Linked DNA regions of Homo sapiens: regions 1, 2, 3, 4, 5 and 7 are each linked to region 6. Evidence: fine-mapped expression QTL. A gene starts in region 6. Each other region holds a variant in brackets. All regions are shown on one strand. Distances are between the middles of the regions. Region 1 overlaps JAK1 (Janus kinase 1). Region 2 overlaps JAK1 (Janus kinase 1). Region 3 overlaps RAVER2 (ribonucleoprotein, PTB binding 2). Region 4 has its middle 27 kb from the start of AK4. Region 5 overlaps JAK1 (Janus kinase 1). Region 6 holds the start of JAK1 (Janus kinase 1). Region 7 overlaps RAVER2 (ribonucleoprotein, PTB binding 2).

Evidence for each region. PIP is the estimated chance that this variant, and not a neighbour inherited with it, causes the effect. A credible set is the group of variants that fine-mapping cannot tell apart.
Region 1: its variant is the best candidate, but not a certain one, in a credible set for the expression of JAK1 in cerebellar hemisphere (GTEx, PIP 0.56).
Region 2: its variant is the best candidate, but not a certain one, in a credible set for the expression of JAK1 in thyroid (GTEx, PIP 0.58).
Region 3: its variant is the best candidate, but not a certain one, in a credible set for the expression of JAK1 in blood mononuclear cells (TOPMed, PIP 0.58).
Region 4: its variant is the best candidate, but not a certain one, in a credible set for the expression of JAK1 in neutrophils (BLUEPRINT, PIP 0.89).
Region 5: its variant is the best candidate, but not a certain one, in a credible set for the expression of JAK1 in whole blood (INTERVAL, PIP 0.71).
Region 7: its variant is the best candidate, but not a certain one, in a credible set for the expression of JAK1 in whole blood (INTERVAL, PIP 0.76).

What each region holds. Positions count from the first base shown.
Region 1 is chr1:64,924,598-64,928,677 of GRCh38, forward strand. The region is part of intron 1 of JAK1 (Janus kinase 1); the gene reads right to left. Among named protein-coding and RNA genes, the nearest start is that of JAK1, 40 kb to the right of the region's middle. The variant T/C (reference allele first, on the strand shown) is at 1,746.
Region 2 is chr1:64,935,381-64,939,460 of GRCh38, forward strand. All of the region lies in intron 1 of JAK1 (Janus kinase 1), which reads right to left. Among named protein-coding and RNA genes, the nearest start is that of JAK1, 29 kb to the right of the region's middle. The variant A/G (reference allele first, on the strand shown) is at 2,081.
Region 3 is chr1:64,769,505-64,773,584 of GRCh38, forward strand. The region is part of intron 2 of RAVER2 (ribonucleoprotein, PTB binding 2); the gene reads left to right. Among named protein-coding and RNA genes, the nearest start is that of RAVER2, 26 kb to the left of the region's middle. The variant ATAGATC/A (reference allele first, on the strand shown) is at 1,709.
Region 4 is chr1:65,119,276-65,123,355 of GRCh38, forward strand. No RefSeq gene overlaps it. Among named protein-coding and RNA genes, the nearest start is that of AK4, 27 kb to the right of the region's middle. The variant A/G (reference allele first, on the strand shown) is at 1,968.
Region 5 is chr1:64,835,349-64,839,348 of GRCh38, forward strand. JAK1 (Janus kinase 1) reads right to left here. Exons shown (of 25, transcript NM_002227.4): 21 at 3,117-3,241; 22 at 2,584-2,756; 23 at 750-867; 24 at 48-158. Among named protein-coding and RNA genes, the nearest start is that of RAVER2, 92 kb to the left of the region's middle. The variant A/G (reference allele first, on the strand shown) is at 2,307.
Region 6 is chr1:64,964,820-64,968,899 of GRCh38, forward strand. It overlaps JAK1 (Janus kinase 1), which reads right to left and starts at 1,730. Exons shown (of 25, transcript NM_002227.4): 1 at 1,514-1,730. RefSeq lists a silencer at 1,075-1,954.
Region 7 is chr1:64,829,128-64,833,207 of GRCh38, forward strand. It overlaps RAVER2 (ribonucleoprotein, PTB binding 2), which reads left to right. Exons shown (of 12, transcript NM_001366165.2): 12 at 1,712-4,080. The coding sequence ends at 1,858. Among named protein-coding and RNA genes, the nearest start is that of RAVER2, 86 kb to the left of the region's middle. The variant A/G (reference allele first, on the strand shown) is at 2,430.

The sequences.
Region 1 (4,080 bases), 40 kb before region 6:
GCTCCTAAGCAGGTGCTCAGTAAGTCTGAGGAAGTGGGTGGTAGTTCTTCTAAAATTCCTCTGTTTGTTCTGAAGTAACAGAAAAACAGAATCAGTATCTTCAGCAAATTGAAAGATGGCATCTACTGGACAGGACTGTAGAACTGCTGACATTCACTTAAAGCCACAAACACCTTTATAGGATGCTATTTTTCCAACCCCATAATGATGATCTAAAACCAGGACAGCAAATACACATGGTCAGCAGGGGCTGAACAGGCAAAGCACAGAGGATTTTTAGGGCAGTGAAAATACTCTGTGTGATACAATGATGGGTACATGTCATCATACATTTGTCCAAACCCATAGAATGCACAACTCCAAGAGTGGACCCTAATCTAAACTATGGACTTTGGGTGATAATGATGTCAGTGTAGGTTCATCAAGTGCAACAAATGTACCATTCTGGTGGGAAATGTTGGTTATGAGGGAGGTTATGCAAGTGTGAGATCTGTACCTTCCTCTTAATTTTGCTCTAGGCTGGGCGCAGTGGCTCATGCCTGTAATCCCAGCACTTTGGGAGGCTGAGGCGGGCGGATCACCTGAGGTCAAGAGTTCAAGACCAGCCTGACTAACACAGTGAAACACCATCTCTACTAAAAAAAAAAAAAAATACAAAAAGTTAGCAGGGTGTGGTGGCGCACACCTGTAATGCCAGCTACTTAGGAGTCTGAGGCAGAGGAATCGCTTGAACCCAGGAAGTGAGCCAAGATTGCACCATTGCACACCAGCCTGGGAGACAAGAGGGAAACTCTGTCTCAAAAAAAAAAATTTTTGCTCTAAACCTAAAACTGCTTTAAGAAAATAAAGCCTTAAGGAAAAATAAAACAAGAAGAAGAAAACTGTGTATACATCATGGCCTGATGTCCCACAGAGCCTGGGAATGACTTTAAAATCCATCTCAATGTGGCTCCAATGAGTCCTGCCAACTGATTAGGCTTCCTGACCTCAAAAATATGGGAGAAGACAATTAGTCGGTTCAAACTGACTTCCTGTGGGTAACTGGGCCTTCCACACCATGCAATCTAGTAATTCCGACTAACATCATCTGAGCACTTACCATGTTCTTCAGGCACATAGTGTCATGCACTTATTTGACCTTTATATAACAATGAGACATGGTATAAATCCCTACTTTACAGGGAACTAAATGAGGCCCAAACACAAGACCCAAGGTCAAATGCTGTTAAAGCCCAGATTATACAGCCCAGATCTGTCTAGCTCCAAGCCTGTGCCAGTTATTTGCAATCACCTATAAAACCACCTGTCTGGAGGAGTGGGGTCATAAAGCTTCCCACTATAGTGGTACCTCTCCTCTGTATGAACCCAGGAGGTGGGCAGGCTCCTTTAGGTAGATGACAGATAGCATATCAAATAAAAGCCAAAACAAAATTCCTCTCTGCTGCTCAGCCAGAGTCACAGAAAGCTGAGAAGATACCCAAATTAGATCTTTAAACCAAGCTGTGGACCCCAGGACCACACATTCCCTGATGCATAAACTGAAAGCTTCGCAATGGCATCAAGCCCCAGTGAGTGCTGGCTCTAACCTATCTTCACTCCAGTTCCTGCCTCTCTCCTACGGCCAGTGCTATTGTCTCCAGACCCCACTTTCCAACTCTGAGTACACACTAGATCTTTGCTCACCTGATGGTGCAGAGGAAATGCTCCTCCTACCTGCTCCAGTATATGTGACTCCTGCCCATTTT[T/C]CCAGACTCAACAGCAGGATCCCCTCCCCCCACCCCCAAGTGGCTCCACACTGCCCAGGTGGAACAAACTGACCCACTTCAGAGCCATCGCAGCACTGTTCATGCACACACTTTCCTCAGGGCCCTTACCCCTGTCCTCCTTACATTAACGATTATCAGTATACACGGCCCTTCCCTAGAGGGTTACTTCCTAATGCACCCCTGTATTTTCCTACAATGCTGACCACAACCACCACCACCACTAGATATACAGTCCACCTGATGAATGCTTATGACTTGATGTGGCTGCCATTCTATACACATTTTGTTTAATCCACATATTAGTTCCATTTTACTGATGACGAAACTGAGGTCTGGCATGACCCAGCCTTCACTGGCACTACAGCATAGCAGATATAAGCACAGTCTGGAACCAGAACACGTGTGTTTGAATCCCAGCTCTACCACGTGCCAGCTGGGAAATCCTGGGTAAGTTATTTATCCCATCTGTGCCTCAATTTCTTCATCTGTAAAACAATGATCGTAACACATGCTCCGTAGTATTTTGGTCAGCATTAGAAGAGTTAATGTATGTGAAGGCACTCAGCACAGTGTCTGGACATAGCAGGAACTAAACAAGTGCTTGCTACTGTTATCATCATCACTGTTTCCAACCTTGTCTTCCATTATGCCCCAAGTCCATATTTTTATGTCCTCAAATATACCAACTACTTCCCACCTTTGTCCAAGCTGACTCTTCAGCCCTGACTGCTCTCTGCAGGCCAGGTCCTCACCATTCTTTGGGTCTGCTTATGTGCTCACCTCTGATGGGCGTACCCTGACGACCCTATTAAGAAAGAGCTCTGTCTCTCTGGCACGGTCTCCCGTGTCCCCTCCCCCCACTCCCCAGGTCCTATTCATTTTAGCACATCCTTGTTTCTTTTCCTCAGGGCACTTATGACAGCCTAGAATTGTTATGTGTTGATCCATGTATTTGTTTTGTGTCCACATCCTCACTAGAGATGAGGGAAAGAACTGCGTCTGTCTTCCTTTTTTTTCCATCTTCATCCAGCCAAGGGAAATGCTCAATAAATATCTGTTGAATAAGTGGGCAAATGAACGAATAAATGAGGCTCAGAAAGTTTAATAATTTGTCAAATATTACACAGACAATCAACAGAAAAGACAAACTTCAAACCCAGATTTGACTCCAAAGATGGTGCTCTTTGTAGCTTGGTACCCTGTCTCCTTTTACATTATAGGTATTTAAGAAGTAGCTGTTGAATTAATAAATGAATGAACTATAGAATCCTTAAGGTAACAGGTTGCTGATGGTTGCTGCTGCTATGGGGACAGCAGGAAATAAACATCCTGCAAAGTGCCATTCTCTCTATTTGGTCAACGATGAGTATCGATCAACTCAAACGTCTATTAAGCAGCCACAATGAACACATCTGTATAATGCAAAAGAATACAAAGCCCCTGTATTTGGCTGGAAGATAGCAGGTAGAATCAGGACTACAGCATATGGTTGGGCAGGTTGGGCACTGCCAAGAATGCCCAACTGAGGTAAGAAAGTGATGGCTGAAATCCAATCTGCCTTTTACTAGCCAGGCCACACTCTCTGGTGCAGGGCTACCCCACTCAGACAAGATGCTGTTTTCTAATTTTCACAAAGACAATATATAGACTAGCAGCAGCCCTATGGAGGGTCAGTCTTATTTCTTAAGGCTGGGTCTCTCTACCATGGGAGTTTAATGGCACAAAAGGCACTGACTATTCAAAACACAATGCCCCTCCAAACCTGCCAGTGCCCCTGAAACAGCCGCTTGGGGTGAAAGCATTCTATGCCATGAGGTGCTTATGATAATACAAAAACAGGGAGGGGTAGCTGGTTCCTTCACTGCCACCTTTTAACTCAGACTAGTCTATCATATTGGCCTCTAGTACTTGTCAGAGCAGAGAAGCCTGAAAGTTGGGACCTGAATAGATTAAGTTTCCATGCAATAAAAGGTGATGAGAAAGATTCCAGAACAAAGAATACTGCGAGAAAAAGTAGGCTCAGGCTGGGGACCCCAAAATCACGCATTTCCCTTTCTCCCTGAAGCCAGCTCTCACTGCACCTAGTAGGTATACAAGAGTGCATTCATGTGCCTACACAAATATGCACACACAAAACTAAAGAAAGGATGTCACTTGAGCACACAGCTTCCTGCCCCCTCCAGGAGTCCTAACTGCTCAGCAGAGAAAAATAGCTTAGAGGAGCATAAAGAGACCCAAGAACTCTTCCTCTTGGCTTTCCCAGTAACTTCTGGAATTACATTTGGAAAGTCACTTCACCCCCAAGACCTGAATC
Region 2 (4,080 bases), 29 kb before region 6:
CCTCCGCCTCCCGGGTTCAAGCGATTCTCCTGCCTCAGCCTCCTGAGTAGCTGGGATTACAGGCGTGTGCCACCACGCCCAGCTAATTTTTGTATTTTTTAGTAGAGATGGGGTTTCGCCATGTTGGTCAGGCTGGTCTCGAACTCTCCTGACCTCGTGATCTGCCTGCCTCGGCCTCCCAAAGTGCTGAGATTACAGGCGTGAGCCACCGCACCCAGCCCATAATTCATCTTTAAACCAACTCTCCAACAACCTGTCCTCTTTCCTCCTACTCAGACTGAATGAGAAGTCTGGTCTTGGCAGTCCCTTGATGTTTATCCAGCCTTTCCTGCTGTGACAGAATACTTGATGTGCTACCACAGAACTGCTTGCAACGCTGACGGGTCATCTCTGATGCTAAGGGAGAAGAAAAGGGAAAGTCCCTGGAGAGCCACCATATTGAGTCTTTACAATTTCATCTAGTGGACTGTGGAGCCATAAATGGTGCACAATAAATCCAGGAATGCTGGAGGGCGAACTGACAGGATCCAGTAGGAACATCTTAGAACAGACCGGTGTGTGTCTCAACACCTAGGACAGCTGCCCCACAAACAGACGGTCCAGGGACACACCCTTGCCCCTCCCCATTTCACAAAGCTCCCATGGGGCCTTGTCTCCCAGCCTCTAGCCTTACTCCAGTGTCAATATGGGATCCGGCAGGAAGAGGCCAATGTGCAATTACTAAATAAAACTCCTTCATTGACTGAGTTGCCTCCTCTCCTTCCAGGCTCAAGATCAAAGATTAAGCAACAGAGGAGAGGTGGAAGTTTATCAGAGAATCAGGATTTCAAGGTTGGAATGGACTCTACAAAACATTCACCCTCCTCCTCCATGGCAATAACTATCCATACTTTCATTATTAGGCCAAATAAGCCTCTACATTTACCCTCAACTCCACAGGCCCATGGATGGACTCTAAGAGTATTTGGTATTTAAGATAAAAATACAAATTTGACACAGTGCACCCTCCAATGCAAGGTAGGAATTGGTGGGCACCTTGAAAGAAGTATCCTTGTTAAACCTCTAAGACTCTTGTATTGTGGAAGAATTAATTCATTCTTGGGGAAATCCAGTTATTTCTCCCATGAAGACAAAGAGAGGTACCTTATGTCACTCACCCATCACCTGTCTAGACACCCAGGACTTTCACAAGTATGACTGGAGAGGTGAGGCCAAACACAAGAGCTGAGAAACAGCACAGCCCTGTGACCAGTAGCCAGGGTGTAAGCCCAGCTCCACCACTTACTAGCTCTGTGATCCTAAAAAGCAGGAAAACACTAGGACCTACCTACCTCATTTGCTTGTAAAAAGATTAAGTTAGTTAATCTACTTAGAACACCATAAGTGCTATATTTCTTCCATAAATGAAGAGGCTAAGCCAACGTTTCTTTGAAACATGGTATCCCACGTTGGTGAGAATTTCCAATGTGACAGCAGAAAACAGTAGGTTGTACCATATGAAACTGCCAATATTTGACCATTTTTATGTACAAAAATGGCAATTTTATATTAATAAATCAAATATATGTGAAAAAGAATACAAAGCAGTGCATTTACAATCATCCTAAATGCCTAAAGCTTAGGCCTTTTACAGAAAATATTTCAAATGACTGTTTAAAAAAAAAAAAAAAAGGATCAACTATTTGTATGGGGCTAATCCTCCCCACCCCCAGTTTGGTCTACAGGACCTCATGTAGATTGAGCAACTTTGGCTATTTGGGTAGCTGATCCACTGCCAAGCTGGCTCCCAGCTACCACCTGTTACTTTGACAACTCTAGCTTCAGGGCTACCAGGACCATTTGCAAAACTTACACCCACAGAAAACTCAAAGTCTCCAGAGGCATAAGCTCCAACCCCCAGAGAGCTCCACAGCATTCTTCTCCTTCTAGTAGTACTTTTGGTTTCCAGGAAAATCATCTCATGCTCGGGCCACAGTCACAGTCCTGACCAGCACCATAGAAATTTCAGCCATTATTCTAGTTGTATGGAGTCATTCAAAATACTAATTCCGAAAGAAGTTTCAAAGGTCCAACGCCGAGC[A/G]TCTTTTACCTTTGCTAATTTTTCCATAAATTGAAAGCCTTTCTAGAAAGAAAGGAGCGTATCACTGTTAAACTTCAATTATACAACACAGGCCCTCTGTTACAACTTCTTGTCAATCTATAATTATTTCAAAATAAAGTTTCTAAATAGGCATTAGTGGAACACTGATTAGTAACTGAAAACCAAAGCAGACTTAGTCGATCATAGAATGACAAAAAAAAACCTGGAAAATGTTGACCTCATTATTTCAGTTTTTCAGACATATCCTTAAAGCGAGGTCAAACTGATCCATCAACAAGTCAACTGAACATTTGATATTCTACCTTGGAACAAGGAAACCCAACCATCGATCACTCCAACATTGTCTGAGATACACTAAATTACTCTCACTGTAAAAGTTTCTTGAACAGAGAATGTCAAAATCTTCTTTTTTTTTTGAGAGGGAGTCTCACTCTGTCGCCCAGGCTGGAGTGCAGTGGCGCGATCTCGGCTCAGTGCAACATCTGCCTCCCGGGTTCATGCCATTCTCCTGCCTCAGCCTCCCAAGTAGCTATGACTACAGGTGCCCGCCACCACACCCAGCTAATTTTTTGTATTTTTCAGTAGAGACGGGGTTTCACTGTGTTAGCCAGGATGGTCTCGATCTCCTGACCTCGTGATCTGCCCACCTCGGCCTCCCAAAGGAGAATGTCAAAGTCTTTAAGGCTAAGAAAGAATGTAATTTCATGGCTGAAAAAAAAAAGTTTTTTTTAAAAAAAAGTTCAATTATACAAAGATATAAAAAAATACTCTTTCGTAAAGAACAACTTTGATGAAACCTTTTAGATGTACTGTGTGATTTTATGTCTTCAGTCCACTATAATAGAAAGGCTCTTTTCAATGACTGCCCCAGTAATAACAGGATAGTAGCAGAATCTTTCTGGCCTATAAACTAAGCCTAGTTAGGAAACAAGACCCAGAAGCATTTATACTTGTCTGAACTCTTGATTCCATGTTATTACATGAACTAAGTGAAGACCTGAACCAAGATCATCAGCCTTCTATTAAGGCACACAGATGATCTGATTGGCTTGGGCTTAATGGTCATGTTTCAGCTTCATTTTATTGCTCCGCTTCCCTTGACACCAGAACTATTTATCTCCTCTACTTCTCAATACTAAAACCATTTATAAATCCCAAGAACAGTATTCACTGTAAATCAAACTAGTAAGTAAACTCGTTCTCCAACACCAAACCATACACTTTCATGTTTCTCAACTAAAAGTAGAGTTCATTACAAAAGAAACTGAGAAATGCCTCCTCATGAAGTCTCTCTTAATATTTTATGTCTACATAAGGATATGATGTGGGTAGAGGTAGATGGCAGCACCAGTGTCTCAGGAACTGTTTTCTAGTGCCCCCCAAAACAGAATCACGGGTCTCTATCCTCCCCTGGCATTCTTAATGTTATAATTAATAGTTAATAATTAAAATACTTAATTAACTGAACTAAACTGAAGATCCACCTAGCATTTTTTTCTTTTCTTTTCTCTTGAGACAGGGTCTCACTTTGTTGTCCAGGCTGGAGTGCAATGGCATGACCATGGCTCACTGCTGCCTTGAACTCCTGGGCTCAAGCAATCTTTTCATAGGAACTGTTGGAGCAACTGTTTGGAGAACTACTATCTGAAAGACAATAACATATTTTTCCCTAAAGACATTCTTGCCCCCAGGGCACACTTTTCTGGCTGCCATCAACCCTGCTGCCTAGATTCAACGAAATGGGGATGTCAGATGATTCTGTGAGCAACAGATCTAGGCATGAACATATACATATAAGCACAACTCATACCTCTAAGGGTGACCATACAGCTAGGAACAGCAAATGGCAGATTACCATGCATAACACAGGACAAGGAAAGAAGTTCAAACGTCTAATCAGTGCCAACTTCCATACATTCACACAAGTTCACAATAGTTTCACAGTTTGCAGAAGTTTGGAGTCACTAGTTTGCAGTAAG
Region 3 (4,080 bases), 200 kb before region 6:
AGCACAAGGTAAGATAGTACTTACCTGTGCCTCTTTGAAGTTGAGAGTGGACTTGTGATTTGCTTGTTGATGAATGAAGTGAGAGTGAAAATGACATGTATCCCTTCCAGGTGAAAGATTTCAGAGCCAGCATGTGATTTCCTGCTCACACTTCCCTGTGCTAAAGTAATTGGGGAAGTAACAGAACCTCTTTCAACCTAGGTCTCAGAGTGACTATAATGAGCAAAACGTCCTTCCTTCCTTACCTTCAGCATGGGATATGCAGCATGAATCAGAAGAAAGCCTTTTGTTTTGTTATGCCATTGAGATTGTGCAGAAGTTTGTTACCACAGTATCTTGACTAACCTATAATTTTACCATATGTGCCTATATATAATTAATGGTAGTCTCTGTTTTAAACTTTTCATAAATGGCATTCTAATGTATATTTCATTTAGCAACTTGCTTTTTTTGGGTTAACGCAACATTGTTTTTCAGATCTTTCCACATTGATATATATAACTCAGGTTCATTGATTTAAGCTACTACATGTAATTATCATGTGAATTTATTACGATTAATGTATTTGTTACTGACTGGCATTCAGGAAGCTTTACCTTTCCCAGTATTTCAAACAGTGATGCAATGAATAGCCTTTTAGTTGATTACTAATATACATTTCAACTGTTTCTCCATAACTGAAGCTCTGAGTCATAGGTGTGCACAATTTCAATGTTACAGATATTGACAACGGGATTAGAGGTAACAGCCTTCACAGCTCACATAGAGCCAGGAATAGTGCTATTCCCACTAGTCAGGATGATAAACCTCATAATTCATGGGGCATTAGAAGTAATAATCAGAAAGTTTTTGCTCAGGAATGGGGAAAAGTAACTCAAGACCAATGATGCTCTTGTCCTACCTAACAAAACTTAAAAACAAGACCAGAACGGATCAAAGTGCTTCCTCATAACTTAACCACATCCTGGAACAAAACTCAAGAATATTTGTATGCATCCAAAACATCTGACACCCAACAAAGTGAAATTTATGATGTCAGACATCCAATAAAAAAGTAGCAGACATGATGAAGAAGCAGGAAAACCTAATGTATAACGAGGACAAAAATCAATCACAACTGGCCTAGAATTGACACAGATGAATTAATAAAAATGGACATTAAACCAGTTTTTATAATAGTGTTCCATATATATAGTAAGTTATAGTAAAGATTGAACATGGTAAATAGAGACTTGGAAGATATAAAATATCCAAATCAAACATCTGGAGATGAAAATTACAACATCTGACATGAAATACACTGGATAGGATTAATGGCAGAATAGACACTGTGGAAGAAAAAATTAGTGAACTTGAAAACAATGATGTAAGTGATCCAAAATGAAACACAGAGAGAAAAAAGACTGTAAAACATGAACAGAGTATCAGTGAACTGTGGGACAGCTTCAAGAGCAATTAGAGTCCCTGGGGGTAGGAATAGTTAAAAAAAAATTAAAGAATTAGTAGCTGAAAAGTTTTAAAATTTTGATGAAAATTCTAATCCCAGAAATCCACAGAGCTCAACCAACTTCAAGTACAAAAGCATGAGGAAAACTACAGTGTACGTTGTAATCAAATTGCTTACAGTTAGTGATAGAATGTCTTAAAAGCAGCCAGAAAAAAAGTATACATCATTAATACATTTAGCGGGACAAAGATTAAGATGACC[ATAGATC/A]TTGGAAACAACACAATTGAAAAGACTGTAGGGTAACATCTTTTCATTCTTTACCAAAATAAACAAAAACACAACAGGTCCACATAGAATTCTTAACCTATTGAAAATATCTTTCAAAAACAGTGATGAAATAGAGATGTTTTTCAGTCATACAAAAGTTAAAAGAATCATCACCATTAGACTTGCACTATAAGAAATACTTAAGGAAGTCCTACAAGCAGGAAGAAAATTATAGATGGAAATCTGGACCTACCCAACAAAATGATGAATACGTGATATGGTCATTACGTGGGTAAAGACTTTTTTCTTAATATTGAAATCTTTTAAAAGTATAATTGACTGTTAAAAGCAAAAATAATGACATTACATTGTGAGATTTGTAACACATGTAGAAATAAAATGTGTAACAGCAATAATACAAAGGCTGGGAGAGGAGAAATGGGATTGCACTGTTTGAAGTCTCTTATACAGTACATGAAGTGGTGTGATACCGTTTGACAATTGACTGTGATAAGTTAAAGATGTATACTGTAAACCTTAAATCACCTGTTAAAATCACACAACACAGAAATCATTAATTGTATTAAATGATTTTGCCTTGGATTTTGGAACCTATAGTGGTGTTCGTGGAAACAGATATAATTAATAACTCAGTTGATAAAAGATGCAATTCTTAACTATAACCTTGCAACCAGAGCTTCCTATGGTAGATATGAGGAAATTATTATAGTAAAATAGGATACATTAGGGGAAAAAGTTTTGGCACATGCTTGCCTTCAAATTAGACCCAATAATAAACTAAATAGTAGACCATGCAATGACTTTTAAAAGAATTGGGATCAATTGTGGGATATTTAAATTTCACAAGGAAAATGGTAATGTAATTAATCCCAAATTCCCTTACAGCCTTTTCTCTGTAGAGTGACATCTACCATTTCTATGAGAACTAGTATGTGAATTTTTTTATTTTTTATTATTTTAGAGAATTCGTGGCCTTGGAAAAACATGGAAGAAGCTATAGAACAGAAAATGTGACCTCCTTTCCCTACTGTCTGAACTTTTAAATTTGTTTCATTATGTTATTTAAATTCTTCCATAAAACCTAAGTTGAGCAAATGCAGATACCTAAGAAAAGGACAAAGAGATTTTCAGTTTTTAAATTATTAGTTGATTTATATATGCATTTATTTATTCATTCATCTAACACAAAGCTTCTACCATATGTCATGCACCATGATAGTTGGTGGAATTAGGGAGCTCACAGTTTAGTAGGGTAGCAGGCATCTAAGCAAATAGATTACGATGTGATGTGATCTATGCAATAATCCGAGCAATGTTCAAGATAGAGAGGTATAAAAAAATAAAGAATGGTTAACTCTAAGAGAGGATCAGGGAAGCTTCCTGGAGATCATGATGGAGTAATGCATGGACGAATTTGAAAATCAGCTAAAAGGTTCTAGGTATCCTAAGGTATGGGGAGTGATCTTATAGGCAAGGGAATTAAATGTGTAATATATGGATACCTGAAATAACTGGATCTCTACAGGGAGCTACAAATATTTCAGTGTTCTTGGAGAATAAAGAGCTGTTGGGGAAGGGAGGAAGTATGGCAGTTAACAAGGCTGGAGTTAGATATAGCAGGCATTGTAGAGCATGATTACCAATCTGGCACTTGGCTTTTTTTGTGAGTAATAGCAAACCTTTGCATTTAAGGCAGTAAACAGGCACAATTAAACTTCTGTTTTTTAGAGATCACTTTATTGTCACTGTGGAGAAAGGATTAAAAAAAGAAAAAGCTAGAGGACTGAAGAAAGGGGGATGGATTCAAGACCTATTAGACGGGTGGAATTTGAGGATTCCTTTTATATGGGAAATGAGGGAGACAGAGTCTAGGTTAATTCCCAGGTTTCCAATTTCTGGGTGTTGTGTGACCAGCTAAAATAGGGAATAAAGGAAGATGAGAAGTATTAGGATTTTTTTTTAATATACTTAAAGTTCTGGGGTAAATGTGCAGAACGTGCAGGTTTGTTACATAGATATACATGTGCCATGGTGGTTTGCTGCACCCATCAACCCGTCATCTACATTAGGTATTTCTCCTAATGCTATCCCTCCCCCGCTACACCCCCCGACAGGCCCCAGTGTGTGATGTTCCCCTCCCTGTGTCCATTTGTTCTCATTGTTCAGCTCCCACTTATCAGTGAGAACATGTGGTGTTTGGTTTTCTATTCTTGTGTTTGCTGAGAATGATGGTTTCCAGCTTCATCCATGTCCCTGCAAAGGACATGAACTCATCCTTTTTTATGGCTGCATAGTATTCCATGGTGTATATGTGCCACATTTTCTTAATCCAGTCTATCATTGTT
Region 4 (4,080 bases), 150 kb after region 6:
TCAAAGCAGTGGTGGATCCATTCTTCTCTTCCACCAGGGACTTCTCTTCCAGCAAGAGGAAGAAGAATGGCATAAGAGGGACTGTGATGTAGGTAAGTTTGGGAGATGTGGGTAGTTCAGTAGTTTCCTATTTAAGTGGCTACCACTTACTGAGTACTTATTACATGCCAGGCACTATGTCACCATCGTATTTAATCCAAACTATAACTATGCAAGACTACCATTTGACCTTCAAGAAAACTGGGCTGGCCGGGCACAGTGGCTCACTCCTGTAATCCCAGCACTTTGGGATGCCGAGGCAGGAAGATCACCTGAGGCCAGGAGTTCAAGACCAGCCTGGCCAACATGGTGAAACCTCGTCTCTTCTAAAAATACAAAAATTAGCTGGGCGTGGTGGCGGGCGCCTGTAATCCCAGCTACTCAGGAGGCTGAGGCGGAAGAATCACCTGAACCCGGGAGGCGAAGGTTGCAGTGATCCAAGATCGCACCCCTGTACTCCTGCCTGGGCGACAGAGGAAGACTCCGTCTCACAAAAACAAACAAACAAACAAACAAAACTGAGCTGAGGAGACAATTCGACAATTCATGCAGTCAATAAGTAGGTTGCAGAGGTGAGGCTCAAACTGCATTCTTCTGATTCAGAAGTTATGTAACTTCCCTTGTGCGCTTTGGTAGACCTCTCCATAGTTGGTTACCACCACTCTTGAGTCCTGTTCTTTATTATCTTCTTACCTGGTGGGTAGGACGTCTGCCTCAGTCCTGAGATCTTTTGCCTGATTCTATTTTGTCTCAGTCCTTTTTTTTTCAGTCCTTGGGGACACTGTTTTGATGGCCAGACCATGTTCCTTCTATCTGAATGTGCATTTGTGTCAATCCACAAGGCTTGGTCATCCCTGCTGGATGGATCTAGTCCCAGCTCCCGATTCCTTACTACTCTAAGTAACTAGGTTAGTAGAAAATTAAAAGTCAGGATAACTAGATGTTATAATGTGTGTGCTTTATGCACTAAACATCTATTATTTCTCTTTTTTTCTTTTTCTTTTTTTGGTGGGTGGGGGACGGAGTCTCGCTCTGTCACCTAGGCTGGAGTGCAATGGTGCGATTTTGGCTCACTGCAACTTCTTCCTCCCGGGTTCAAGCAATTCTTGTGCCTCAGCCTCCCAAGTAGCTGGGATTACAGGCGTCTGCCACCACACCTGGCTAATTTTTGTGTTTTTAGTAGAGACAGAATCTCACCATGTTGGCCAGACTGGTCTCGAACTCTTGACTTCAGGTGATCCACCCACCTCGGCCTCCCAAAGTTCTGGGATTACAGGCGTGTGCCACCGTGCCCGGCCAACATCTATTATTTCTAGTCCTGACAACTCCAGATAAAATATAAAGAGACAACAGCCTTCTAACGGGGATATGTGTACACCCTCCTCTGAGTCAGGAAGACTTCCAAGAGGGATGCAGGTGAGGATAATACTATGGTCTGAATGTTCATGCCCCCTTAAAGGATATATTGAAATCTTAACTTCCAAGATGATAGTATTAAGAGATGGGACCCTTTGGGAGGCGATTAGGTTATGAGGGCAGAGCCCTTTCGAGTGGGATTAGTGCCCTTATAAAAGATGCCTGAGGAAGCTCGTTCACATCTTCTACCACAGGAAGACACAGCTAGAAGGTGCTATCTATGAACCAGGAAACTGGCATTCACAGACACCAATTCTGCTGGGGCTGTGATCTTGGACTTCCAAGACTTCAGAACTATGAGAAATACATTTCTGTTATGTATAAGCCACCCAGTCTACAGTATTTTGTTATAGCAGCCCTAATGGACTAAGACAAATAGTTTTAAAGAAATAAAAATTTTCGGATCCTGAGCTTCCATATGTGCTGGTCCTAAATTGATCTGCCTAACAAAGTGGACTGAGGGAGATGCAGGTCCTTTGTTCCTACCTTCCTACCCACCTACTACTTCAAGC[A/G]AAGAAAGATGTGCACTCCATCCATCTCAAGCTTACTTTGGTGCATTGCTCTGGGGTAAAAATATCCAAACAAAGAGGCAATTAGAAATATTGATGATGGCGTTGAGAACTGAGTAACTCTAATAACTGGGTATCAATGCCTTTTTGTAAGTCAGGTGGTTTCTAATATTTTGTTTTCAACAAAACTGAAGGAAATCTTAATTAAGGTTGACAGTAGATCATTAAAATTATTTTTGATGACATATAACTATGTGATTCTTTTGTTTTGTTTTTTGCTTTTTGTTTGTTTTGTTTTTGTTTTTGTTTTTTGAGAGGGAGTCTCGCTCTGTCGCCCAGGCTGGAGTGTAGTGGCGCGAACTCGGCTCACTGCAAGCTCCGCCTCCCGGGTTCACGCCATTCTCCTGCCTCAGCCTCTCTGAGTAGCTGGGACTACAGACGCCCGCCACCACGCCCAGCTAATTTTTTTGTCTTTTTAGTAGAGACGGGGTTTCACCGTGTTAGCCAGGATGGTCTCCATCTCCTGACCTCGTGATCCGCCCGCCTCGGCCTCCCAAAGTGCTGGGATTACAGGCGTGAGCCACCGCGCCCGGCTTTTTTTTTTTTTTTTTTTTTTTTTGAGACGGAGTCTCACTGTGTCACCAGGCTGGAGTGTAGTGGCGTGATCTCGACTCACTGCAGTCTCCACCTTCAGGGTTCAGGCGATTCTTCTGCCTCAGCCTCCCAAGTAGCTGGGACTACAGGCACATACCACCACGCCCAGCTAATTTTTGTATTTTTAGTAGAGATGGGGTTTCACCATGTTGGCCAGGATGGTCTCCATCTCTTGACCTTGTGATCCGCCATACCTCGGCCTCCCAAAGTGCTGGGATTACCCGCGTGAGCCACTGTTCCCCGGCCAACTATGTGATTCTTTTATTTATTTATTTATTTAATTATTATTATACTTTAAGTTCCAGGGTACATGTGCACAACGTGCAGGTTCGTTACATATGTATACATGTGCCATGTTGGTTTGCTGTACCCATTAACTCGTCATTTACATTAGGTATTTCTCCTAATGCTATCCCTCCCCCAATCCCCCACCCCACAACAGGCCCTGGTGTGTGATGTTCCCTGCCCTGTGTCCAAGTGTTCTCATTGTTCAGTTCCCACCTATGAGTGAGAACATGCAGTGTTTGGTTTTCTGTCCTTGCGATAGTTTGCTCAGAATGATGGTTTCCAGCTTCATCCATGTCCCTGCAAAGGACATGAACTCATCCTTTTTTATGGCTGCATAGTATTCCATGGTGTATATGTGCCACATTTTCTTAATCCAGTCTATCATTGATGGACATTTGGGTTGGTTCCAAGTCTTTGCTATTGTGAATAGTGCCACAACAAACATATGTGTGCATGTGTCTTTACAGTAGCATGATTTATAATCCTCTGGGTATATACCCAGTAATGGGATCGCTGGGTTGAATGGTATTTCTAGTTCTAGATCCTTGAGGAATCACCACATTGTCTTCCACAATGGTTGAACTAGTTTACACTCCCACCAACAGTGTAAAAGTGTTCCCATTTCTCCACATCCTCTCCAGCACCTGTTGTTTCCTTTTTAATGATCGCCATTCTAACTGGTATGAGATGGTATCTCATTGTGGTTTTGATTTGCATTTCTCTGATGACCAATGATGAAGAGCATTTTTTCATGTGTCTGTTGGCTGCATAAATGTCTTCTTTTGAGAAGTATCTGTTCATATCCTTTGCCACTTTTTGATGGGGTTGTTTGATTTTTTCTTGTAAATTTGTTTAAGTTCTTTGTAGATTCTGGGTATTAGCCCTTTGTCAGATGGGTAGATTGCAAAAATTTTCTCCCATTCTGTAGGTTGCCTGTCCACTCTGATGGTGGTTTCTTTTGCTGTGCAGAAGCTCTTTAGTTTAATTAGATCCCATTTGTCAATTTTGGCTTTTGTTGCCATTGTTTTTGGTGTTTTAGTCATGAAGTCTTTGCCCATGCCTATGTCCTGAATGGTATTGCCTAGGTTTTCTTCTAGGGTTTTTATGGTTTTCGGTCTAACATTTAAGTCTTTAATCCATCTTGAATTAATTTTTGTATAAGGTGTAAGGAAGG
Region 5 (4,000 bases), 130 kb before region 6:
ACATAATAGAAATGGAGTGTTATTACTGTGACGTGGCCCATAGATACCTCATCTGGACAGTTAGGTGGGCACGGCAGGCGTTTTCCTTCTTTTAACGTATTCACAAGTCTTGTGACTGTCATCTGGCCATGGGTTGGGCCTATCATTTTCAGGAACAACTATATAAAATAAAATCAAACAAAACGTTTAACTTTGCAAGTATTTACATAAATGCCAAACAGATTAAGGTGAAATTTCTACAATCAACTGGAAATTTAAGTAGCAATAAAAAGGCTTTTCTCCTTAGTAACTTTAAATAAAAATCCAAAATCCTTATTAGCTTTCAATGATCTGTCTCTAACCAGTGTCTTAGACTCTACCAACCACTCCTTGTGCTTGTGCTGGTCAAGGAGTCTGTTCCCAAGAAAATGATCTGATTTAGGAATGAAGGAGGCACAGACAAGGCTGGTCCCTACCCAGTGCTACCCCACTTAACTTGCTCATTTTCCCATAAAACTGCCCTTCATCTCTACACAGATAAGATCCTTGAGAGTCAAGGTCATCCTATAGAACTCCGGGCTCGTTGTGAAAGCAAGACTTTAGAGATTCACAAATAACTGTCAAGTAGCAAACCAAGTTAATGGGAAAGTGACATTTTCCATTATAATACATTCATTGGATTCCATTTAAAAACAAAAGTTAACCAAGCAGAGGGATGGACACATTTTAAATGGGTACTGGATTCAAATGAAGAGAAAAGTAGGACTTACAGCCATGGGACTAGAATCTGAATCACAGTAAGTCAGCAGCTCATGCAGAGTGACTCCAAAAGACCAGACGTCAGAGGCAATATAAAATTTAGATTGCATTAAACATTCTGGAGCATACCTTGAAAGGAAGCAGAACACAAAACTTCATTTCCTGGGAGGCACACTCCATCCGACATTACAGGATAACTGAAAAATCACCTCTTCGGTTTTTCTTATAATTTAATACAGCATCTGACTGTGTATTATATATTTTACACATACCATGTATACGCTGCTATGGTGCACATCTGACCTATAGTACGGTATCCTTTACAGGCTCTCGGTAGCACGTATCTGCCCTAAAATAACACGCCAAGTCTGTGCTCTTCATTTCACTGAGAACATGCTCTCAGGGTATGGGAGGAGGTGGCCGTGTAATGATGAGCCCCAGGTCTGATTTGCCTGCAGGCTCTAAATGAGACAGCAGTGGCCTCACTGCACAATGTGGCATCGCTGTCCAATCCTCTTCCAGCATTGCCTACTTTGCTGAATGACACCCACTTGCCCAAGCCAAAAATGAAGGCATTCCACCGCACCCAATCTCCTTATATACTCCTTGAACCTACTCACTTCTCTCAAACCCTACTGTCACTCTCCCAGTCCCTGTCCTAATTCATGCTGTCACTAGCTCTGGCCTGAGCTGTTGAAGCAGCCAAATCAGACTCCCTGGCTCCAGACTCCCTGGCTCCAGACTCCCTGGCTCCAATCTTGTTCCCTTCATTCAGTGGTGGTCTTTTTAAAACAAAGTCTCCCTCCTTAAACTCTCCAGCAGCATCCCATTGTTCTTGAGATGAAGTCCCAGCTCCATGACTCAAGCTTCCTCCTGCAAACCTCCTATTCCATGATCTGACCTCACTGAGGTTCAGTTCCTGGGAAATCGACTGCTCTTGTCTCATTCTTCCTAGTCACGCATGCTGTCTAGCAACCGTCTGTCTAAACCCGCATGAATCTTTCAGGTTTCTTCTGAATACTCACGACTTCCAGAAAACCAAGCCCGAACCCTTCTGTATGTTTCCTGCTCCATGCCGTTGGCTGCCTAGCCTGTTAAACTCTAAACTCGGCCTACTTGTTCACCATATCTCCAGTACTGGCACAAAGCAGGACCTTGATGCATTTTCTTAAATGAATGAATGAGTAAGTTTAGGCTCCATAAGTGGGAGAGGTCTATGTTTGTGTCCATGTAGGATGCACCTAGGGGAGTGCTGATTGGTTATGTCGTTATGTGGTTACGTGGCAGGGTGCGGTAGAGATGTAAGCAGCCTCTCCCCTGGACAGTGTTCCCGGCTGAGACATGGTTGTAGCCAGTGTGTGGCCTTCTAACCTGGGAACCTCTGGTGATTCATGAGACAGCCAGGTCTCCCGTAGGTTTTGCTCTGCTCTGTCCAGGAGTTCCCTGAATCTGCAATGCCCACTCTGTCCTACAGCCTCCCTCTGCAGGAATGTGTTTAAGAAAGGAACTAGATTCTCTCCACCTGCTCACAGTTTTAAGAACTGCATCAGATGAATGCCCTCTCCTGG[A/G]AAGCTAGGAATGTTGAGCTGGTGGTTAGATTTCTTTCATTCCTTGGAAGACGGTGTCATATGAAGCTCAGTCATTTATATAGGCTGCTTTCAATGAAACAGGCTGAAAGGTGTGTTTCTTGAAGATAAATATCAATCAATTCCAAATGTTCTAAACCTTCTCTAACCTTGAGTCAGGCCAGAGGAATGAGACACATTAATATAGCCAGAAAGGGCCTATTAAAACAGTGTAAACTCTATGAAGCATTGATAAAACCTAGTGGTTTGATTCAGTTACCAAAACACAGGGCTGTCCCGGTCATCCTTGACGGTGTAATACTCCTTATCGGTTTCAATTGCTTTGGTTAAACCGAAGTCTCCAATTTTCACTTGGTGTTCACTCTCAACAAGGACATTTCTTGCTGCCAAGTCCCGGTGAACGTATTGCCGAGAACCCAAATAGTCCATCCCCTGAGAGAGAGAAGTAAAAGTCAAGCACATTGCTAAAGTCACTTTAGATTGTATTATCTATCACTTCATCAGAAAAAATAGAAATGTCATTTCATTCACATATCACTGACAATTTTTTTGGTTCTGACTTTTATGCAAGAATATTAAGAACAAACTGATTCAAATAAATACACATTAAAATAACCATATTTAAATCCGTTTACTTTCTTAGTAGAAGCTAACTTTTCATCTAAATAATGCAGAGAAAAACAAACAGTATAATTATCATAAACTTACCCACTTAGAGTCAAATTACAAACCAATTACCCAGGACAGAGTGCCTGATGTCTTAATCTGTAACATGATGTCTTTATTTTTTACCTTACAAATCTGAACGGCATATTTTAGCTGCTGTTTGAGGTTTATTTTGTTCTTATTCTTTGGAAGATATTCCTTAAGGCTTCCCGAAGGCAGAAATTCCATGATGAGCTTAATACCATTTCCTCCTGTTTAGAAAAAACATCCATCAGTCTGAGGCTGCCAAATGAGGGAACCATGGGAGAGGCAAGGGCACAGGATATGAGACAGAGGCCCTGAGGTGACGCCAGCTTCGCCCCTTCATTACAGGCATGTTACTTGACCTCTTATGCCTCAAGATCCTCAGCAGTGAATGGAGATGGTAACAATGGTGTACCTACCTCACAGGCATAAGCACTCACTGAGATAACAGTCAGAGTGCTCTGTAAACCACAGGCAAATGACTGTTTTCAAAAATTATCGGGCTGGGCGCGGTGGCTCACGCTTGTAATCCCAGCACTTTGGGAGGCCGAGGCGGGCGGATCACGAGGTCAGGAGATCGAGACCATCCTGGCTAACACGGTGAAACCCCGTCTCTACTAAAAATACAAAAAAATTAGCCGGGCGTGATGGCGGGCGCCTGTAGTCCCAGCTACTCGGGAGGCTGAGGCAGGAGAATGGCGTGAACCCGGGAGGCGGAGCTTGCAGTGAGCCGAGATTGCGCCACTGCAGTCCAGCCTGGGCCACAGAGCGAGACTCCGTCTCAAAAAAAAAAAAAAAAAAAAAAAAATTATCATCAGCTGTCAATTTCACTACCATGAGTAGATGCTGGCTTGCAAATAAGATACAATTATTAGTAAATATTACTTGCCACTTTGATTTAGACAACTAGAAAATGAAATACCCTGGCTAGTATTGGATCAGAACAGGAAGTGGGTGGAGGTAGAGTAGGAATCAGTTTCATAAGG
Region 6 (4,080 bases):
TCTATACAGGGGAGACATTTTCTCCACATTACAAAGCATATTGTACCAGAAATGTCTGGAACCCTGGTGGTCTCCATTAATCTTCACCACAAAGTACAAAAGAACACATTGATCCTTCAATGAAAATAATCCCCTGGTCTTGGAAAACATCAGAGTCACCAAAAGCAAAATCAAGAAACAACACATAATGGGGTTTTGGAAAGGGAAGAACAAAGATTCAATCAATACGAATTGCTCATCTTAAACAAAATCTACTGTGCCTATACCCATATTTAACTCAAATCTTTTCTTCAAAAAATAAAAAAATAGCCAAAACCAAACACGCCCTGATTTACATCTCTCTCTGCATTATTCTCATCACTTAACTACCCATGTTTTACTCCCTGAAAGAAGTAATGACAATTTTATACCACTGTAAATTCCTGCCAGTGAGAGAAAAACCCTATGACTTGGGGGGAAAAGTGTCAATGACATGTATAGCGATGTACTCAACCAGGGGCAGAAGGCAGCTCACAGCCACGTAGTAAGAAGAGTGGCAGGAAGGACGGGGTCCCCTTCCCCAGGAACACACAGGAAATCATGGAGTGCAAACCCTCCAAAAAACGTGTGCACAAACACCTGGCAAACATCGCATCTTTTATCTAGAAGTTCCGTGGTAAACACACATCCAAGGAGCCCACATCCCAGGGACCCTGGGGAGTGACTTTGGAGGAGTGTCTATTAGTCCTCCGATGCTCCCGGTCGCCGACGATGCGCGGATGGAGTTGGAGTGAGGGAGCCAGAGACCAGCCCCAGTTTCGGTTAATCAGTCCCTTTCCAGTGGGATTCGCAATTCCCCGGGTAGTTCTCTCCCACTGTTCCCCTTCCCTGGTCCTCTCGCCCAGGGTCTCCTTTCCCACTTCTCGCTGGCTACCTGAGGCCTGGTTCCTAACAGAACCTAAGAGGGGAGGGGGCGTTTCCCGAGTTCGCGGACGCCCAACACCCAGCTCCAAATCCCAGAAACTTTCCCTCGCTGAGACCGCAAGGAAGGAAAAAAGCTAAGACCCTCAGCCTCCTTCCTGGGGCCGAAGAAGAAAACCTTTCTGCGCTGCCACCCCGGCCGGGAGCTGGCGGTCAAGTTCGCGGTACAAGGAGCTAGGGACGTCAGCCCTCCAGCCCGCGCCTGTATCTCGGGGTGGTATAAACAGGATGTCAGACAGCGCGCTCCGGGCTTGTTTATGAAAACTTGCCGTGCGCGCTGGGGGAGGGGGCGGCCTGGCTTAACCGCTCTTCTCCCGGCCGGGGGCCCCCGCCCGGCGACCTCCTCGCCGCCCGCCGGCTCCGCGGGGCTGGAAATCCCCGCCTTCCCCGCCCGAGCCGCGGGGTCCTGAGCTGCGCTCAGGAGCAGCCCGGGCCGCGCAGCCTAAGGACCGACCAAGAGCGGTGGCCGCGCCTCCGGCCAGTCCGGGCTGCGCGCCCCTCGCCTGCCGACCGCGGCCGCCCCGGCTCCTCCACCTCCCCCGGTGACACTCACCACTTCCGTGTGCGCCTGGGCCAGGCAGCGCCCCGTCGCTGCGCTGGCTGGGGTCGACCGGCAGGCTCGCTAGGCGGCCAGCCCCGCGGGGCCCCAGCGTGCGCGCGCCCAGGGCTGAGGAGGGGTCGCGGCGAGGACAGCCGGGACTGGGCGCAGGCCCGCACTGTCTGCAGCTCCAGGATACTCCGCGGCCGCCGCGGCCTGCGCTCAGCGACGCACCGCCTCCCGTCCCGCCCCGCCCCGCCCCGCGGCCGGCCCCACCCCCGTGGCCGCCGGGCCCACCCCCTCGCGACGTCACCAGCGGCAGCCCCGGAAAGCGGGGCGGGGTCGCGGTCCCGGCGGAGACTCTGCGCCTCCGGCCTACCCGCCCCGCCCCCATCCGGCTTCGCTCGCGAAGCTGCCCCCACTCGTCTCTGTTCACCGCGTCCTCTAGATTCTAGAATCTAGAAACTCATCTAGGACGCGAGGTCATCTATCGCGGGGAGTAAAATTGCCAGGATTCGCCCGTAGATTGACCCCTCCCAGCTCTGGAGCCCCCTCCGCCACACCTTTGTGCGCTCGATGCAGAAATGCATCCCGCCTCCTCCGTATACGCTCCGCTTCTTACCCCAGCTCAGTAGGAGAGGAGCTAGTGGAGCACTAGACTAAAAAGAATTTAACAATACAGCCCCCAGCTTGGACAAGCTACTGCAGATCCAACCCATTCCGTATTTTAAAAGCTCTTTACGAAAAAAAAAAAAGCATATGCATAATAGGAATTAGAACTACATTCACTGATACCTAATGCATGTACAGCGCTTTTCATTTTTTACTAATAACCTCTCAAAGTAGTAGCATCATCTTATCCATGAGGAACAAATTAAGTCTTTAGTGTCTTAATCAAGGTCACACTGTAGCCAAGATTCATACTTCGTAGGCAGTCCACGGACAAATCCTAACAATTTTATTTCCTTAGGTATCTCTCCAATCAGTTCACTTGTCTATGTTCCGGCAACACGGTCCGAGCTGCCACCATCTCTCACCTGAAGGGACCACGAACATCTCTTAAATCGTCACTCCATTCACTCCAGCCCCCAATTAATTCTCTACAATGAACTTTTAAAAATTCAAATCTGTTCCACACACTCCCATGCTTAAAACACTCCAGCGACTTCCCCCTGACAATCCCTGGATGAAAATCCTCCGAGGCCGTGCACGGTCAGAATTCTGCAGCTTCAGGGCTGTGGACAGAGGCTGCCCCACCTGTGCTGACTTCACTAACCCTGCTGGACAGTTCCTGATCACTTGAGTTACTGCAACTGAAACTGAGCAAGATATTCTGGGTGTGGAATAAAGTCAAGCATCCGAATTAGACTACTGAATTTGAGGTTTGGCCTCCACCAGTAACCACCTGTGTTGCCCTAAACAATTCTTAGTTGACTCAATTCTCAGTGGAGCAGCAGACAAAAGGATCTCCAAAGTGCCTTCCAGAAGTACAGAAAAGAGGACCAAAGAAGACCGGAGATCAGAGCAGACAGGGAGGCAACCCGGGTTGCCTGCATTGTGGGTGTTTGTGTGCAAGTCTTGTCTCATCTGCCACACTCTGAACAACACCTCAGGGCTGTTTGCATCATTTTCTTCACCTGTTAAATAGGGATAATGCCTTCCTTAAAGGGGTTTTGCTGAAGGTGAACTATGATAATATAGCCCACATGGCATGGGCTCAGGAAGTGGTAGGGGTTTTTATTGAGCTGGACCATAAAGAACAGGTGAGACTGACATGAAGGGAGACAGAGACGTGAAAGAACAGCATTTCAGGTGAGGATGTAAAGAAAAAGGAAAGTCAGGAAGGCAGCAGTGAACCCATTGTGCCCACGAACGAATCTGGCTGTTCACAGGGTGGAATCAGGGGGAGAGGGCCTGGATTCAGTTTAGATCTGTTCGTCTATAACAGACATTGTGCTAGGTGATGAAGATTCAGAGAAAAAAAAAATAGACTAGGTTCCTGACCTCTGAATGCTCAATGCAGTCAGAGAGACAGGCAAGTAACAATTCAGTGATTCCCGGTCCTGTAATGGTGATCACAGAAGACAGTCACCCAGCCGAGTCTGAGGAAGTCAGAATAAGCTTCAAGTAGCCGACAGGAGGCAGGAGTCAGGAGGTAGCGGCATATTCAGGCAGTAATAGTATATGCTGGCTGGGTGTGGCGGCTCATGCCTGTAATCTCAGCACTTTGGGAGGCTGAGGCAGGAGGACTGCTTGAGGCCAGGAGTTTGACACCAACTTGGGCAACACAGCAAGACCCTGTCTCTAAAATAAAAACAAACAAACAAACAAAGGCCAGGTGCAGTGGCTCACGCCTGTAATCCCAGCACTTTGGGAGGCCGAGGTGGGCCAATCACTTGAGGTCAGGAGTTTGAGACCAGCCTGGCCAACATGGCGAAACCCCATCTCTACTAAAAATACAAAAATTAGCTGGACGTGGTGGCGGGAACCTGTAATCTCAGCTACTTGGGAGACTGAGGCACAAGAATCGCTTGAAGCCGGGAGGCAGAGTTTGCAGTGAGCTGAGATTGTGCCACTGCACT
Region 7 (4,080 bases), 140 kb before region 6:
AATGTAATAAATTTCCTATCTGGCTTCTGACAGTGAAGATGGTATAGAAAGACAGAAACCCAGGCTGTTGCTTTGCTGCATGCCAAGACATGAAAGAATAGATAACTACATGGCAAGAAGAATTGGGGAAGGTGGGTGAGAAGAGCAGGAGCATCCCAGATCCCAGAGTGAGCAGTCTGCTTCCCTCCCCCAGTCTTTGGAAAATCTCACTTGTAGAATGGACTGATGACTTCTAAGAGGAGGAAAGCTGCTAAAAAGAGTTCTTTATACCTGAAGTAAGGTCTGATGGTGTTAGTGGCTGGGGTCCAACATTCAGAAAGATCACCTACCAGCGAAGGGGCCCTAATGAAGAAGGCAGCTGGAGAGAATAACCAAGAGGCTGGAGACTGGGAGGAAGGGTTTTTGGGGCAGAGGCTCCACCTAAGAGGTGAGCAAGCTGTTTGGTGCAGCAGCCCTTCTCTAGGGCTGAACCCCTCGTCACCATCAACTCAGCTTTGACAACTATCAACTTACGGCAGGTCTCCTTTCATCTACCCTCTCACCTGCTTCCCTTCTAACATTCTAGCACAAACCCCAGACATACTTTACTACCAGGAAAAAAATGTCGAGGCAGAAATTCAAGCCAGATTCTTTGCCCATCAGCTTCACTCTGTGAAACATTCCTTTACACTGGGCTTGTGTGAAGACGCTTTGTATTGGTCTGTCCCCACAGTAAGCCACTTTGAAATGAGATACCAGAGGACGCAGCGTTCTTTCAGTCTTGTCATCCCTCTAACATGGACCACTGAGAACTACTTTAGCAAGGAGTTGAGAGAGACCTATCATCTGTTCCCTCTGAGGCTGGCTGCACTTTTAAAAATTGTGACCGTTGTTGGTTCAAAAACAATTGCAGTTTTAATTGCAACGTGAGAAGGCTCCTGTGTGTTACTGGAAGCTTTACTCATCAGTCATTTCTAAGTTCTTGCATATTAAGTCACATAATTCTGCATTGATAAAAGCTTGCTGCACTTATTTTTGTAAAAGCTGAAACTAAGAGGCATTAAGCTGAGCAGTGCTACACCATCTGATTTACTGTGCTGATCACTGTGACCACTTGTGAGGACATGTGGCCCACTTTCAGGTCAGAATCTCTGGGATGGTGCCTGAAAACCTGCATTTTAATATGCTCGCCAGGCGATTATTGTGGAGACCAAAGCTCTGAGTTTCCCATTGCTCTCTAGAATGTTTCATGTTGTTTTCTTTGATGTCATTTGTCAGTTTCTACACCTATTGATTTATTCTCTCACCACTCCTCTTGTCACCAGGCACACTTAACATCTAATTCAATATGCAGCTTGATGTCTTAGCCACTCCTCCTTCAGAGGAATACTGACATTCGGTGTTGATATTCTGAGTCCGTGGGTTTAACTAGCTGTGATCAGCAGAAGCAGCTGCATGCAGTGCTCTAATTTTTTCTTTTCCCAAAAAGTTGGGGTTGGGAGTGAAGGTGCTGAGACTGGTTTGTGTCTTGCAGAAATTCCAAAGGCGATGTTGATACAGAAATTTAAAAGTCTTATTTAACAAAGGGGTTTGTGTATTTTTTGATAGTTTGGGTATTTATCCTGTTATTCTATATTCACCAAGTCAAAGTGGAATGCTTTTCTTATAAATATCTTTAATGAATAAGCCAACTTTAGATTTTAAAACTAGCTGCAATTTTATTTTCTCATAGGTGTCATCTTTAAGAAATGAAAAGCGAGGCTCATCATATCTCATCTCTGCCCCAGAAGGTGGTTCAGTGGAATGTGTTGACCAGCATTCTCAGGGCACAGGAGCATATTACATGGAAACTTACTTAAAAAAGAAGCGAGTATACTGAGTTAAGCTCTCTCCTAATAACCCCCTAAGGTTCTCTGCAGTATCTCTGCTGTTCATCGCTGCCTTAACTTCATTCAAACTAGCCATATCCTTTAAATACGGGTTTATAGTTTCCCAGAAGGAACTGTGTTGTGCAGCAGGCAGAAATGCCAAATAAAAAATAGCAATAAGAAGAGACATCAATTGAGGACATTTTCCACTAGAGTCAGATGCATCTTAATCAGTGTGCTAACTTACAATCCATTGGAGAAACTAACAATGTTCCAATATTCCTTGATTTAGGACTGGGAATAATTCTGACACCATATATAAAAGAAGTTTGAAGCAATAAATGGGAAACAGTGTTGTTTCCTGAGCCTTAGAAGAATGAGTTTCTTATAAGCCAATGTGCATTTCAATTTACTTTCCCTAGAAGTAATTGCATTTATAGATTTTTAGGACTTTTCCTAGAACTACAAGGGTGCAAGTACCAAATGTGCTGATGGTAATATTATAAAGATGCTCTACATGCACACTCAATTACGCCCACACCAGCCATGCAAAATTAAACCCGGTAAGAGAGTGACAGTGAT[A/G]TCCAAGGTATCCACTACTACCGATGCTTTAAGATGTTGTTTACCATTTATACCTTCTGTGAAAAATAGAAGGTATTTTAAGAAAAGTAACTTTGGTGATCTAATAAAAGGGTTTGGCAAACTACACCCTGGGTCCACATTTGGTCTACCACCCGCTTTTGTGCTGCCTGCAAGCTAAGACTAATGTTTACATTTTTAAATGGTTGGAGGAAAAAAGAAAACTTATGACATGAAATTTATATGAAATTCAGATTTCAGTGTCCATAAATAAACTTTTATTGGGACGTTGCCATGCTCATTCATTTACGTGTTGTCTGTGGCACTCTTACGCTACAAGGGCAGAACTGATTAGCTTCAACAGAGACTGTATGGCCTACAAAGACCATATGGCCTAAAATTTCAAGTATCTGGCCATTTATATATAGTTTGCTGATCCCTGATCTAATAGCACTAATTCTAATAGCAACTATTCCTTTCAATTCACCTAAAGACAGACCTTTAGCCTTTAGACAGACTTGTAAGTGGAAAGGAACATGGGTTTCTGTGCTCATTTCATAGCGTAGACTAGTAATGATCTAATGACTAGAATGGGGCCTATTTTGATCACTAAATGCCCTATTATTTCCACAATATAGTATAGTAAAGCAGTCAATACTGCACTTTCTGATGGAGTCTTAAGGAGTCACAGTATTTATAACCATTTTGAGCTAATAAGCTATACCTCACTCTCTGCTTTCTCTCTCACTCTTTTTGATAGTGTGTTAGGGTGAAAAATCAGTTATTTAACCCAATTTACTTGTGAAAGAAGTTTTATCTTTATGGACTATGATGACTTTTGACATCACCATTTCTTGAAGACCTTGGTATTAAATGCATGAGAAACCTTTTGCCATCTAGAAATTTCTAAGTTTGTTTATGTTATAAGACTGTAATTAATTGATAGGGAATTTGGGATCTCAATCCGGGGCTTTTTGAAATCAGATCATTAAATATCTCGTCACTTTGGGGACTTGTTATTTTTAACTATGATGTGGATATCCTGTTTTAATTATGAAGTCTAGAATTGGTACATATGTTGTATGCTTTGTAAAGAATTTCACTTGGTCTAATTTATTGCATATACTAGCTTCTGTTGGAAAATGACTGACAGCTAGAAAGTTTAAGGTAATTTCTAAGTATACTACCTATAAGTAACTGATAAGAATTAGGCATCATTCAGTGATATAGCAGATGACTAATGGGTTTTTCAGGCCCTGCACTTCTCTTTCCCATTTTCCTGTTGCATTCAGCCTCTTCAATGCTTAGTCACACCTCCACTATAGTACAAACAAACAAACAAACAGAAGAAAGGAAAGATGGTGAATTTTGCAACAGAGCTGCAAAAAGTCAGTCAGTCAAAGCAGGAAGAGGTTGAAGGAACTAAAACAAACAAACAAAGGTGTCTGGACTACAGCACAGTGGACATGCCATCCATACTGGCCTGTGCCCCGTTATCAATCACTGGGCACAACAGTGAAGAAGTGCAAATCAAGTGGTGTTTGTTTGTTTGTTAGTAGTAAGGACCGTAACCCACCCCTTCCTCCCCCCAAAACTATACTGTTATTTTTCTATGTAAGCAAATTGTTTGAAATGCTTTGAAAATGAAATCTTA